Linked DNA regions of Homo sapiens. The protein of the gene in region 3 purifies or fractionates together with the protein of the main gene of each other region. This does not show direct contact. Each region holds a gene or a part of one and is shown on either strand. Other genes may lie near its edges.

Evidence for each region.
Region 1: the proteins of FBXO21 (region 3) and NUP98 purify together in Homo sapiens (co-immunoprecipitation; one study listed by IntAct). This does not show direct contact.
Region 2: the proteins of FBXO21 (region 3) and HHIPL1 purify together in Homo sapiens (co-immunoprecipitation; one large-scale study listed by IntAct). This does not show direct contact.
Region 4: the proteins of FBXO21 (region 3) and VEGFD purify together in Homo sapiens (co-immunoprecipitation; one large-scale study listed by IntAct). This does not show direct contact.

What each region holds. Positions count from the first base shown.
Region 1 is NC_000011.10:3,675,555-3,679,054, forward strand, and holds part of NUP98 (nuclear pore complex protein Nup98-Nup96 isoform 1 precursor), read right to left. Parts: intron 1,067-3,500; coding exon 955-1,066; intron 823-954; coding exon 605-822; 3' UTR 1-604. UniProt on the Homo sapiens protein: Plays a role in the nuclear pore complex (NPC) assembly and/or maintenance. NUP98 and NUP96 are involved in the bidirectional transport across the NPC. May anchor NUP153 and TPR to the NPC.
Region 2 is NC_000014.9:99,651,629-99,655,128, reverse strand, and holds part of HHIPL1 (HHIP-like protein 1 isoform a precursor), read right to left. Parts: intron 2,906-3,500; coding exon 2,259-2,905; intron 1-2,258.
Region 3 is NC_000012.12:117,173,471-117,176,970, reverse strand, and holds part of FBXO21 (F-box only protein 21), read left to right. Parts: intron 1-2,173; coding exon 2,174-2,320; intron 2,321-2,629; coding exon 2,630-2,766; intron 2,767-3,500. UniProt on the Homo sapiens protein: Substrate-recognition component of the SCF (SKP1-CUL1-F-box protein)-type E3 ubiquitin ligase complex.
Region 4 is NC_000023.11:15,381,614-15,385,900, reverse strand, and holds the start of VEGFD (vascular endothelial growth factor D preproprotein), read left to right. Parts: upstream 1-1,487; 5' UTR 1,488-1,954; coding exon 1,955-2,044; intron 2,045-4,287. Other genes in the region: PIR (pirin), read left to right, coding at 785-897. UniProt on the Homo sapiens protein: Growth factor active in angiogenesis, lymphangiogenesis and endothelial cell growth, stimulating their proliferation and migration and also has effects on the permeability of blood vessels.

The DNA.
Region 1 (3,500 bases), on a different chromosome or scaffold from region 3:
AGCCCTGAAGATCAATCCCTCCGTGACAGGCATTCACTTCTGCCCTAAGTGTGTCAGAAAGATCCCATTTTGTTTCCTAACTCAGGCCAACCCTCCTTTGCCTCCAAAATTCAGTGTTAACTAACCAATTACTTAAGAGACGGATCCCTCTTCCTTCTGTGGATAGTTCATCTGTTAAGGATCCATTATCACCTGTCTCACTCCTCCTAAGGAGTCCTAGTATAAAAGGGCCAGGGTAGGAGTAGGGAAGCTGGTTGGCATGGAGGGTCACAAGATCCAGAATGGCTAGGGATGGAAAAAGAATACCCTGGTTCTTTGGGGGATTCTGCCAAAGGAGCTTTATTGACCATTTTTTTAAAGGAAAAACACTGAATGATCTTGAGGATGGTAAACTGTCTCCTCTTCTGGGTTCCAGAAGCCCTTATGCTACGTTCAGTATTAAGAAAAGCCCTGAACAAGTGGAGGATGCTGCTTCTGGCAGCAGGGAGGGAGGGTAGATGCCACAGCCAACCCAGAGAATGGCAAACAGTGCCAATCCAAACAAGGCAGGGAACCTCTGTGTGGTGTGAATGGGCATGTGACTGTGATGCAAAGTGCCTGGGGCTCACAGGCTCCCAACAGCCAGTTCTCGCAGATAGGACTGGGTAAGGCTGCGCAGTTCGTCCATGGCATAGTCCTCAGGCATGGGAAGCCGGCCAATGTGGGGAGCCAAGAGGCGCAAAGGGACTCGCTGAGGGTCTGGTGTTGAGTCGGAGGTTCTATCAGGAGGATGATGCAGACTCAGCACCACGCGCAGCAGGTTGGCTACACGTTTGGCCATGTCTAGAGAGAAAAACTAGAGTCAAGCACTGAGCATGGGGTCTGGAGAAGGGTGGTAGGCACTGAGGGTGGGGTGTAATAATCATAAAAACAGGAAGCAAGAAGGCAGAAAGAGTGAGGAGGTTAGAGGCTTACCTGACTGAGCCAGGCGATCTTTAGCACTGTAACACTGAATCTGCTCTATCCGACTGCACAGTGAAGTCACTTTGATGTGTAACTGCTCCAGGTCATTACCTGAGCAATCCACCTACAAAGAAGCAGAGAAGCCAATTAATCCAAGGGGAGTTCCTATCACTCCAATCCCACCTATAGACTCTACACAAAACCTTGAAACAACAGTGAGGTGAGGGAGGGGAAAATCCAAGATGATGACACAGGGCCAAGCCACCACCATCTAGTGGAGGACAAGGCACTAATTATGCAGTAATAGCCAAGAGGAAGGTAACACAGTTACCTAGCCTTGGACTAGGAAAAGTCTTGAGATCCCGAACTATACAGCAAGCTTTAATAACACAGCACCAAAAATCAAGATAAATTGGGTTCAGAGAGATGGTATGACTTCTAAAGAGCACACAAGGAAGTAAAAAATGCAGCCAGAACCAACATTTAATTTAGGTCCCCTGACTCCAAGTTTATAGCCTTTTCTAAAACACCAAAAAAGCTGTGTGCAGGGGGCAGGAGGATCAAGAGCAAGACAGGTTATTTGCTCTCATGAAACTGATAGAAAATAAATAAGAAAACACAAAACAGTAATAAATCCTGAAAAATCACAAGCCATGTAGATAATTTAAACAGGTGGATGTGGCAGAGAGAAACTGGATAGCTACTTGAGACTGGAGGACCAAGAGAGGCTTCTTTAAGGAGGTCATATTTAAATTGAGACCTGAATAACAAGGAGAGAGCTCAGCTTTCCAGGCAAAGAGAAGACAGCTAAAACCCCCAAAGGTGGGAATTCAAAGGAGATTTACATGGTGACATGTAGGGTAAGGAGAAGAAGCAGAACAAGATAATACTAGAGAGTTTTTATGTAACATAGGTTTTTTTTTTTTTTTTTTGGGAGAAGGGGGGTCTCGTTATGTTGCTCAGGCTGGTCTCAAGCAATCCTCCTGCCTCAGCCTCCCAAAGTACTAGGATTACAGTCATGCACCACCACATCCAGCTATGTGCTGGCACATTGATAGTACCCTTTGCTTAATCCCTATACTTATCAAGCTATAGTAATTGCTGCTTTACTTGTATGTATCTCCCCCACAAAATCATTATTTTGGTAAGGGCAGAACACATACTGTTTACCTTTATATTCCCCAAACCCACTACAGTGCTTGGCATACAGTGAGTTCTCCATAATAGGTTGTGTGAATGAATTACTCAATATTCAATGAGAAAGTGGTTTCTTCAAGTGATTATTTAGAAATGATGTTCTTGATTCATACTAAAAGTACAGCAAACATTGAATTATGTCTATTATGTGCCAGGCACTGTACTAGGAGTTGGAACTTTGATGAGGATAATAATAGATAACAATTATTAAGCATTTAGTAGAGGCCGAGGTCAGGAGTTTGAGACCAGCCTGGCCAACATGGTGAAACCCCGTCTCTACTAAAATACACACACACACACACAAAGCTGGGTGTGGTGGCACACGCCTGTAATCCCAGCTACTGGGGAGGCTGAGGCAGGAGAATTGTTTGAAGCTGGGAGATGCAGTGAGCTGAGATTGTGCCACTGCCCTCCAGCCTGGGTGACAGAGTAAAACTCTGCCTAAAAAAAAAAAAAAAAAGGCATTTAGTACATGAAAGGTACTATGTAAAACACTTCATGTAGATTTTGTTTAATCTTTGTGAAAATCTGTCAATATGAACTATAATCTGTACTACTGTCTACCCCACCCACCTTTTTCTTTCAGACGAGAGAGGTAGTTAACTTGCTCAAGATTACATAGCCAGTGAATTTGGAAGCCACAAATTGAATCTATAAGTCTGCTTCCAGAACTTGAGCTGTTAACCTCTACACTCTATTGCCTGTAACCGTAAAAGACCTTCCCAAAAGGGGCTTATAGCAACCTGAAAATATGAATAAGTAACTACAATATGGTCTGACAGGTGCACTAGTAGAATAATGTACTAAGTATCTTGGTAGTAAGAAAGTGCAATTAATTATCTCTGGGGAAAAGCAGAGAGAAGTAGGGGTAACAGCAACCTAGATCTTAAAAGGATGAGTTTAAGTGTGCTAGGTAGTGTGGAACATAATATGGTTTGTTAGAAACACCAGAAGTAATTTAGTGTGAGTACAGCAGGCTAGCAAGGCTGGAACGTGGAATAAGAGTGGTAGGAGTAAGGCAGGAAAGGTAAAAGCCTCTAAAAGGACTTGAATCCTATATTTATTATAATGAGTTTGGTTTTTGCACCATAAGCAAGCAGTGGAGACTCATTTTACGACTACAAAGACTGACCTTAAGGCTGCGTGCAGGCGTGCGGTAAGCTCATGCCTGTAATCCCAGCAATTTGGGAGGCCAAGGTGGGCCGATCACTTGAGGCCAGGAATTCAAGACCAGCCTGGCCAATGTGGTGAAACACTATCTCTACTAAAAATACAAAAGTTAGCTGCGTGTGGTGGCACACACCCTATACTCCCAGCTACTTGGGAGGCTGGGGCATGAGACTCACTTAAGACTGGGAGGC
Region 2 (3,500 bases), on a different chromosome or scaffold from region 3:
ATCTCAGCTCTGGGAGGAGAGACTGACAGCGGATTCAGGCAAGGATAACCACTCATTCCTGGCCTGCCCTGAGCCTGCTGTGCCTACCTTTCCCCAACAGTGAGTCAAGTTCTAGGCTTGACTTTGTGAGGTCACCAGAGGACCTTTGCTGAGCCCCCACTCTGAAATATGTTCATCTGTGTATTTTGTGTTCCACCTCAAGTCTTTATCAGGAATCCATTTTTAAAAGTCACCACTGAAGACACATCCATTCTGTCCCTCCATCTCCCCTCTGTCAGATCCATGTGATAAACTTGGTCTCTCTTGGAGAACTGGCTGTACAGGCTCCTGTAAGATCTGATAATTATGTTTCCTCCTTTCACTCTGGCTGCCAGGAAGCTCATAGTCAAAACTAATGCTGTGAATCATAAAGCTTCACATTAGCCTTCATAGCTAACATATTTGATTTCTCCTCCTTTTTATACATTCGGTGTCAAGATTTTACAGTTTTATCAAACACACAATGTGCTGTTCTTTGCCAATTTGCCCTCACACCCAGTCCTGGCCCTCCCCCTACCTCCTCTCTACTGCAGGGGGTCAGCTCCTATGAACGACATTTCCCAGGCTTCTTAGATAGCTGGCCTCCAGCGAGGTTCAGCCAGTGGACAGCATTGGCAGGAGCCTGGAGAGGGAGGAGCACTGGGGTTTTTCCCCTTCTCTGCTTTAAGCAGCTTCTTGGCAACAGCTGCTCCTTCTCTCGGCTCCACCTCCTCCTGCCCAGGCCAATTATGGCTCCAGCTTCCACTGGGTGTCCCCAGCTCCAGGGCGCCAGTAACCCCATCTTCTCACTTTGTCCTCCCGGCCCAAGGGGTAGAGGCAGCTTCCTCCAGTTTTTAACCTCAGAGTCGCTGCCTTCCCCAGGTTGCCTTTTTTCTTTTTTCTTTTTTTTTTTTTTTTTTTTGAGACAGAGTCTTGCTCTGTCATCCAGGCTGCAGTGCAGTGGCAGGATCTTGGTTCACTGCAACCTCTGCCTCCTGGGTTCAAGACATTCTCCTGCCTCAGCCTCCCGGGTAGCTGGGATTACAGATAACCACTACCACACCCAGATAGTTTTTGTGTTTTTAGTAGAGACAGGGTTTCGCCATGTTGGCCAGGCTGGTCTTGAACTCCTGACCTCAAGTGATCCACCTGCCTCAGCCTCTCAAAGTGCTGAGATTACTGGCGTGAGCCACTGCGTCTGAGCCCTTTTATCATTTCTAACACATGAGTAACTGACTCCCAGGATCAAATTCTACCTATTGAGTTACCTGTTACAGGGTTTATTTCCTACTGGACTTAGACTGATACATGTGCCCCACGTGCAAGGTCAGGTCAGACCCATTTTGAAAACAGTTGGGGCATAAATCATCCACAGAGTGCAGGCTCTGCAGGCCTTGTTGAGAGGAGCAAAAGCCCAGAGGCAGGAACAGATGAACTTCAGGGCAGGAAGGAGAGCAAGTTCCCTGAGGCAGGGGATTCAGGTGGGAAAAAGGACCCAGTGGGGCTCAAGAATGGCACCTTCGGCCGAGGCGGGCAGATTGCCTGAGCTCAGGAGTTCAAGACCAGCCTGCGCAACACAGTGGAACCCTGTCTCCACTGAAATACAAAAAATTAGCCAGGTGTGGTGGTGTGTGCCTGTAGTCCCAGTTACTCAGGAGGCTGAGGCAGGAGATTTGCTTGAACCCGGGAGGCGGAGGTTGCAGTGAGCTGCGATTGTGCCACTGCACTCCAGCCTCGGCAACAGAGTGAGACTCCATCTCAAAAAACAAAACAAAACAAAAAAGATGGCACCTTCAGGCCAGAGCGAGGCAGGCTGGGGCAGAGGGCGGGCTTTGGAGACAACAGATCAGGGTTCCAGCTCTGACCCTCCCTCCCCGTGTGACCCAACACTTCACCTTTCTAAGCCTCCACTTTCTTATCTGTAAAATGGGAAAAATAATACTAGCCTCAGTGGGTTTTAGGAGAATCAAATGAAATGAAGCATCTAAAGTGCCTGAAATAAGAGTTGGTGGAGAAATGTCAGGCCTCACAGGCCAGATGGAGGGGTTTGGATATGATGCCTGTGTGAGGTCTGTTCTGTAAAACTGTCCTTCTCCAGGCCCCAAAGCATGAAATTCAGCACCCCCACCAGGTGTGTTAAATATTCACAATATGTGAGAACAGGATACCAACTGGTCCTGTCACACCAGTGCATATGGGTGCCTGCCCCCACCCAGGCCCGGGTTCCCCAAGGAAGCCACCTCTCAGAGCTGTGGTCCACGGCGTTCTCGTCATCCTCGGAGACTCTGAACTCGCTGATGCGGATCCACTCACTGCTGCGGATACCCACTGAGTAGTAGACGTAGAGCCTGCGGTTGTGCTGGAAGCTGGGGTGGAAGGCAATGCCCAGGAAGCCACGCTCGTCACCCTCCCAGGGCGAGGTGAGCACCACCCGGCTGATGTTCAGGAAAGGCTTCCCCAGCCTCGAGCGGTCGGGCAGGTAGGCCCACACCAGCCCCACCTGCTCGGCCACGAAGAAGCGGTGGGTGCCATCCCTGGCATGGACCATGGCCACGGGGTTGCGCAGCCCGTTGGCCACCTCCTCCAGGCACAGCTGCAGGCAGCCCTTGGCATCGGCTACCACGTGGCCCAGGTTTGAGTTGAGGTTCTTGTTGACCAGCAGGTAAGGGAAGCAGTAGTCCGTGTCATCCAGGGACAGGTAGCGGCAGAACCTGGCAAGGTTGCCCTCCAGCGCCCAGAGCTCCTGGTCAGTTGACAGGTGACGGAACAGCCCCCGGCACTTATGCCACATGTCCAGGCAGTAATCCTGGCAGAGCCCGGGCACCGTGCGCAGGGGCGTGAATGGGTCCTCGGCGTCATAGAGGTGGGCTGCATACGGCGAGCATTCCTGCAGAGACAGTAATGGCTCAGAGATGTTTTGTGGAGGTGCTTACCAGCCCAAGGTTACCTTGGGCGGGTCCCCCATCTCTCAGAGCCTCAGTCTGCTGATCCATAAAATGGAGACAACGCCATCTGCCTGTTACCACGATAAGCCTCAGTGACAGTAGCAAACCTTAGGTCTTAATGTTTGTGTTGTTGTTAGAACACTATTACTACTCCTATTAATAGCAGCAGCAACAGCAGCAGCTACTCTGGAGCACCTGCCGTATGCCAGGAAGAGTCTGAGGCACTGTCACCCACCCTCTCTGTGTTAACAGTGCGCCTCCGCCCCTACATCAGCACAGCTCACTGCTGCACTTAACTTGGGTTCCTGCCCAAGGCTCACCTCCGATCCTCCCTGACCACCCCGTCCGCACCCTCTAGTACCTTCCGGCCTCTATCTGTTGAAAAACAGTAAAACACGAAGTGCTCTCTAACTTGGCTCTGCCCATGGACAGCTCCATCATCAGCTCCTGCCTCTCCCCACCTCTCCAGCCTCCTGTCTACCTTCCATCTCCTGATACTCTGATATGGCTTGGATCTGTGTCCCTACCCAAATCTCG
Region 3 (3,500 bases):
AAAATGATTTTGAATTCCTACAATATTACACAAACATTCCCATAAATTATGGTTATGAAATACAAATATGACTGGTCGTTTACTTTTATTCCCTACTTCTGATGTTTTACCAGATTGTTGATTTTTTTTTCCATTCCAGTGTATCTCATAGTCATGTTCCCATTCTGTTACTATTCCTTTTTTTAAAAAAAATGTATTTATTTTTAGAGACGGGGTCTTGCTATGTCACCTATGCTAGATTCAAACTCCCGTGCTCAAGTGCCACCACACCTGGCTGGCTTCTGTAACTAGTCTCATGCAGTCTATGGCCACCTCTCCTGGCAACAACTTTCTGAGTAATACTTGCTTTCATGAACATTACCCCCCCTTCCCTCCAAGTCAGCCAAAATACCAGTGCCAGCCCCATTAGAAATCTAGCCTTCACCACTGCATGTGAAACCTGCAATGTGGACAACTGATTTCCCTTTTATATTTAACCTCTACCTGCTTTTCAATGCCCTGCATAATCTGGTCCAGACCTTTGCTCCGTACTCTCCAGGATGTCCCATTTGCTCCAGCCAGGCCATTGTCTAGACTGGTGCCCCACAAATACACCTGGCTTCACTTCCTCATTCATGATATCCCTCCTTCTCATAATCCCTCTTGAAAATCCTACTCCCCCTCCATAATTCAGCTCAAGCCTCACTTCCATTAAATTTCCACTGACTACTTGGAGATTTTACTCACCTCAGAGCTACAGTAGCATTTAATAGTAAGCTGTCTTGCATTTTTTCTGTTTCCTGTGTATACATTTGTTTCTGTAACTAGTCCCTAAGCTTCCCGTGTTGTGGTCCTTGTGTTAGGATCACTGTATACCTCACAATGCTTAGTGTAAATGTTTATCAAGTGTATGAAAACCTAGTATCATCCAAAAGGAAATGAAACATCTGTTTCAGTTGATTAAAATAAATTCTCACTGCTAGAATCCCCTCATTTGTATACTGGAGTTGAGAAGCATCCTATCTTCTGTTTATTTCACAGTTAAGAATAGTATATTTTTTTGTAGCTTATGTATGAAAACAAATACTCCTTTTTCATTTTCTAAATACAAAGTTATAATTTTCAAAGAACTTCCACATCAGTGTCATAAGCATTGAGAAGCCATTGGAAGTTGTTTAGTAGTTGAGTGAATGACAGTTGGCTCTCCAAGTTTCTGATCCTTGGTGACTGACTGGAATAATGCTGATGCCATCGAAGAAGTCTGGGAATCATAGCATTAGGAAGGAACGGACTTCAGAAATGTGCAGCATAAACTGCTTCAGCTTCCAGGTAGGGAAGCTGGGGCCCTCGGAGGCCGAGGAGACAGTCCCTGGCTGGTGGCAACACTGGGACTGGGGTCGAGGTGTCTTGACACCCGTTCAACTGCTTTGAGCTCTGGAGCATTGGTAAGGGAGTCCAGGTTCTGAGCTGGTCTGAGATCTCTTTAATTTAAGGTGACTCGAGAGCTTCCCACATAACGGTGTCCTTACCCAAATGATGCTGTTAGCCCTTCAGTCTCTGCTTCCAAAATTACCTAAGACTGTGAAGAGGAGTGATTCTTAAGAGACTGTCTGCAGTGTGCTCTGCACAGCTTTTCAGCTGTAGGTTCCCCGAGCATAACTGTTTATCTCATTGGAAAGTGGGGTTAGCTCCAGAATCCATTTACTGTTCACCCTTGAGATGTGTAATTTGTTGAAATGGCACATCTGTCATGGAGGGCTTTCAAGTTGTTTTTTTTTGTTGTTTTGTTTTTTTAAAGGAACTGCCTTATACCATTAAGTTTTCAGAGTTGTTGGATTTGGAACCTATAACAGCTAGGGAGAGAGAAGTAGCTTGAAAAGATCTCCTTGATGTCATTTACTTCTCTTTGTAATAGAACATGAAACTGCGCCATATACCACGCAGTTTTTTAGTCCATGACTTCTGAGAGAAGTTTGATTTATGTATTTTTTTTTTTAAAGTTAAAGCTACTTTGTTATGAAAATGTTTGTTGCTCCTTCTCAGTGTGTTAGCAGCAAGGTCCATGGCCAAAACATGAAGCTTGTCCAGTGGGATGGTGTAAAGAGCCATGTCCCAGGATGTCCAGGGTAAAATTGCAAACTAATAAGAAAAGGGTAACGTGAGAATTTATTCGGTAATTCTTGTTCATTTTCAGGTGCTGTATATATTGACCAGTACTGCAATCCTCTCTCCGACATCAGCCTCAAAGACATCCAGGCCCAAATTGACAGCATCGTGGAGCTTGTTTGCAAAACCCTTCGGGGCATAAACAGTCGCCACCCCAGCTTGGCCTTCAAGGCAGGTGTGGCATTGCTTTGGATCCAGCTGTATTTATGAAAGAAAATCTAGAGGAATTGGTTAATTTGAGAGATTTGTTAGTGTGCTGCCATTATGTCATGAAAAAGTGATAAAATGACGTGACCACGTGTTTACCTGGTTGAAGTGTTGAACCTAAAACACTTCAAATACATACTGCCTTCTGCTTCCTAGATTGGCAACACTTGATTAATATTGTTAGGCCATTGCCAATGTCTTCATGTTGTGAGTTGTTTGGGGCACCTGTCACAACCTTTTTTGTGCTTGGGTCCCAGAGTAGATCTCTGTGTTTCAGGTGAATCATCCATGATAATGGAAATAGAACTCCAGAGCCAGGTGCTGGATGCCATGAACTATGTCCTTTACGACCAACTGAAGTTCAAGGGGAATCGAATGGATTACTATAATGCCCTCAACTTATATATGCATCAGGTAAATATAGGTACAGTAATATATGGGTATAGTAATATAGGTATAGTAACTTTTTTTTTCTGTTTTTAGAGACAGGGTCTCGCTCTGTTGCTCAGGCTGGAATGCAGTGGCGCGATCATAGCTTACCGCAACCTCAAACTCCTGGGCTCAGGCGATCTTGCCGCCGCACCCTCCTGAGTAGCTAGGACTACATGCCACCACACCCGGCTAATTTTTTATTTTTTGTAGAAATGAGGTCTTGCTATGTTGCCCAGCCTGGTCTCAAACTCCTGGCCTCAAGTGATCCTCCTGCCTTGGCCTCCCAAAGCGCTGGGATTATAGGTGTGAGCCACTGTGCCCATCCTATATGTATTTTTTTAAGCTTCTCTCTGATGGACCGTACATTCTTGAAGGTCAGTACTATGCCTTCCATCTCTGAGTGCTCGATGAAACTTATTTTTCCTTCTGCTGTAAGGATATTGTTGTGGAGTTTATCTGTTTCCTCATGGAGTATCCTCCATATGCAAACCCTTGAGATAAATTTTTGACTAAAAATAGATATTTCTCTGACTCTGTTTGGTCAGTTTGTATCTTGTGAACACTAAACTGTAAAACTAATCAGGGTCCTCTTTGCACTGGCCTCTAGCCATTTGGGAGAACCTGTGGCCCAGCTGTGTCAAGTTTGCATCTGTTATATTTATTTTTTATTTGCTTTCTGCCTAGTTCCATTTTCATATTTAGTTTGTTGCCCTGTC
Region 4 (4,287 bases), on a different chromosome or scaffold from region 3:
TCAGACCCAGCAATTAGACAAAAGGGTCAGCAAACTATGGTCGATGGGCTACATCTGCCCACTGCATGTTTTTGTAAATGAAGTTTTATTGGGACACAGCCATACCTATTCACTTTTGCATTATCTATGGCTGCTTTTGCACTTTGATGAAAGAGTTGAGTAGTTGAGACAGACACTGTTTGACCCACAAAATCTAAAATACATACTATCTAGCCCTTCCTAGCAAACATTTGCCAACCCCTAGAAAACTTTTAAAAAATGATGCTCTTCGACTTGAAATTTTTATAATCTTCTGTTTATTGTCAATAGGTGCTGCTGATTTTCAAAAAATGACTTAGAATCCTCAAATAAGTATACAGCCTTATATGCTGCTTAGACACCAAAGCTATGATAAGATTTGTCAGTTCTTTGTATCAGATGGGTTCAATTCTTGACATCAGCTAATGTTATAAAAATAACTACAAAATTGGTTGTAATAGAACCAAATCTAAGACTCTTTTTAATAAAAAAGATCACCATTGCTGGTGAGAAACCTATACTGAATGGGTGAGATGCCATTGCATTTATCTGAAGTTTCGTCTTTATAATCAATAATCATATACAATCCTAGTCAAGAAACTCATCTTACAGTCCTTGGGGATTGAACACTGTGAAAATAAACTTTTACTCTTCGGATGTGCTTGGATTTTGTTTTAAATTAAGAACTACAGAAATATATATCATTTCTAGTGGTAGAGGAAAATATTGCCACCCAGAACTTTCTGAATGTCTCTTTCTGCCCTAGGTCCATTTGTGATGAACACCAATGAAGAGATTTCTCAAGCTATTCTTGATTTCAGAAACGCAAAAAATGGGTTTGAAAGGGCCAAAACCTGGAAATCAAAGATTGGGAACTAGTGGAAAGCGGAAGAGCAGGTCTTGATGTGTCCTAGAATTTTGCCATTTCTGAGATTGAGCCATTGAAGGCATTCCATTTCTAAAGCTTATTTAGCCGGTGCTTCTAAAGAATTCCACACTAACGTGATAACATGGTTTTTGTAACAATAAATGTAGGATATTTCCTGGCACATGCAAATAAACCTAATCATTGTTTCTTTAAAAATCAGTGTTTTTCATTTGAGATACCTAAGTTACTAAGCTTCTGTTTAAAAAGTCGTTTTGTGTATGTTTGCCTTTTTTTGCATGTATGGATGGATGTTTTTATTATTTTTGTGCATGTGCAGGTTTTAAAAATCATATTTGATTGCTTTCTGTGTGTCATTGGCAGCAGATGCATGAGCATCTGAGGTCCCTTCTTAAGCAATCCCACTGAGATACAAAGGTCAAAGCTATGTGCTGGGGTTTCATGTTACAGGTTATCTGCTTTAAAATAACGGCAGCCCTGAACATTTGAGTCAGTTCTTAAAACTGCCCTGCTATTGGTAGGGACGCAACAGGATTACAGCCAAGACTTCTCTGCATTTTCTGCCAAAATCTGTGTCAGATTTAAGACACATGCTTCTGCAAGCTTCCATGAAGGTTGTGCAAAAAAGTTTCAATCCAGAGTTGGGTTCCAGCTTTCTGTAGCTGTAAGCATTGGTGGCCACACCACCTCCTTACAAAGCAACTAGAACCTGCGGCATACATTGGAGAGATTTTTTTAATTTTCTGGACATGAAGTAAATTTAGAGTGCTTTCTAATTTCAGGTAGAAGACATGTCCACCTTCTGATTATTTTTGGAGAACATTTTGATTTTTTTCATCTCTCTCTCCCCACCCCTAAGATTGTGCAAAAAAAGCGTACCTTGCCTAATTGAAATAATTTCATTGGATTTTGATCAGAACTGATTATTTGGTTTTCTGTGTGAAGTTTTGAGGTTTCAAACTTTCCTTCTGGAGAATGCCTTTTGAAACAATTTTCTCTAGCTGCCTGATGTCAACTGCTTAGTAATCAGTGGATATTGAAATATTCAAAATGTACAGAGAGTGGGTAGTGGTGAATGTTTTCATGATGTTGTACGTCCAGCTGGTGCAGGGCTCCAGTAATGAACATGGACCAGTGAAGGTAGGTGAGCTCAATTTTTAATGTGATGAAGTTCTTTTTATTGGCTCATACAGAGGACTTTCTTTGCCCTCACTATTTTTGAAACAATATAAAAATGCAGAACCATCCTAGTAGTGGACTGGACAGGATATATCCTGCATTTCTTGGTGACTGTTCTGTTTCTTAGTCTTATTAAACTTCTGGCCATGAGTATTTGAAAATGCTGGGGTGGGGGTTGGTTGTTTTTTGAAGTTATGGTAGAACATGAGCAGTCTGGAATCTTTTTGGATGGAGAAGTTTCTCCTCGGTTGCATATGCAGATGGCACAGTGGTTTTTTAATGAAACATTGATTTGTTTTTATGACTGATAACTTTGTGGGCCATTTATTTTCAGGTCTTTGTGAGCAGCAGAGGTTAGTTTATTCGTTTGGTAAATTGAAAATTGCAGTGCTTTCTATGAACATTTTCTATCTGCTTTTGCAAATTACCAATTGCTGCCATCCAGAAAAATGTTTTCTCAGAGAGTGTTTGGTTTTTTCGCTTCTTGAAAGGTGTAAAATTCAACACTAATCAAATCTTTGGTTCTGTGAGCAAGCATCAAATAGAGCTTAACGAACAGAGAGTAATGCAAAAAATTAACCAGAATGTTGCTGACTGCTGGAACAATACTTAGCCCAATTTTATGCATTTCATGGATTATATATATTTTAAGCTTCTATTTTGAAAATGATTCGGATGTAATTGTTTTGACTGAAGTGGTGCTAAATCATTATTGATTTAGGAACTTCTGGCCTTGAAAAGACAATTAAATGTGAGTTTGAGTTTTTGTAGCTGTTGTTTAGGACGTGCATTTTCAACAGGGGTGATATCGCCCCCAGCAGGGGAAAATTGGTTCGTGGAGGGATGAAAAAGTTTTACCCTTTTGATACATCACGCACAGACGTACATACAGTACATATGGTATGTAGTTTAAAATACGTTATACATTCAAATTGCATAGGGGGAAAGTGTCTTCAAAGGCTCCTGGCTGGTGTTGGTGGCCTGGCGAGGGTGGGGGCTGATATTTAAAAATGTTGAACACTGAGCTGGAGGTGAGTGGGAAGTCACCTTGTCTGGCAGCCAGCACTTTTCTAACTTCTCAAATTCCAAATTTACATGGGAGAAATCACAGTGTTTGGCTCCATTTTACTGCCACCAGCCTTGATATTGGATCTCAAGGCCAGATTGTAGGTAAATGGGAATCTGACTGTAAGCATAGGTAACAGGAGAAAACGGTCTGACTTGTTTGAAGCAAGTAAGACTTTTCCGACTGTCCAGCTTTTTCGTAAGTTCATGAAACAGAAATCCTTTAGATGTGCTGGGCTCCTCGAGTTTTAAAATATTTCCATTTTCCTTGTAAAACATCACTTTATCTGATGGTATAATAAAGGAGACTGAATTGTTGGACATAAGTCATATTCTTTAGGTTGCTCAGCTCTTTCAAAGAGCACAAGCACCAAGAATGTCTCAGGTGTCCTGGGCACTGTGAAGTTTTATTTATTTATTTATTTATTTATTTGAGACGGAGTCTCACTCTGTCACCCAGGCTGGAGTGTAGTGATGCAATCTCAGCTCGCTGCAACCTCTGCCTCCCGGGTTCAAGTGATTCCCCTGCCTCAGCCTCTCGAGTAGCTGGAATTATAGGCACGTGCCACCATGCCGGGCTAATTTTTTGTATTTTTAGTAGAGACAGGGTTTCACTGTGTTAGCCAGGATGGTCTCGATCTCCTGACCTGATGATCTGCCCGCCTTGGCCTCCCATAGTGCTGGGATTACAGGCGTGAGCCACCGCGCCCGGCTGGCACTGTGAAGTTTTAAATGCTTTGAATGTACTGTTAATATATAAATTTGTTGAATGGAGTAACGAAGGAAAGCAGCTGAATTTGCATGTGACAGAAAACAAGTTGTTACACGTGGAGGATGCAGCATTATATACTTACTAATACGATTAGCAATTTTTTTTCAGAATATATCAGAATTTCCTTTAAAAAGTGAAGCTACATATACTGAACTTATATCCACCCTACCCCTCGCTCAATTAAATTATTTCTGATATGAAGGAAAGGATTGCCTATAGCTAAACAGAAGTTTTGGCATAGATATGACTGAGTGGTAAGGGATAATGAGATATATAATATTGGTTATAGTTTTCTTTTTTCCCCAACTTTTAAGAAAAGAAAATCTAAGAGGAAATAATGTTTCTAAATGTTAAAGTTCTTCTTGTT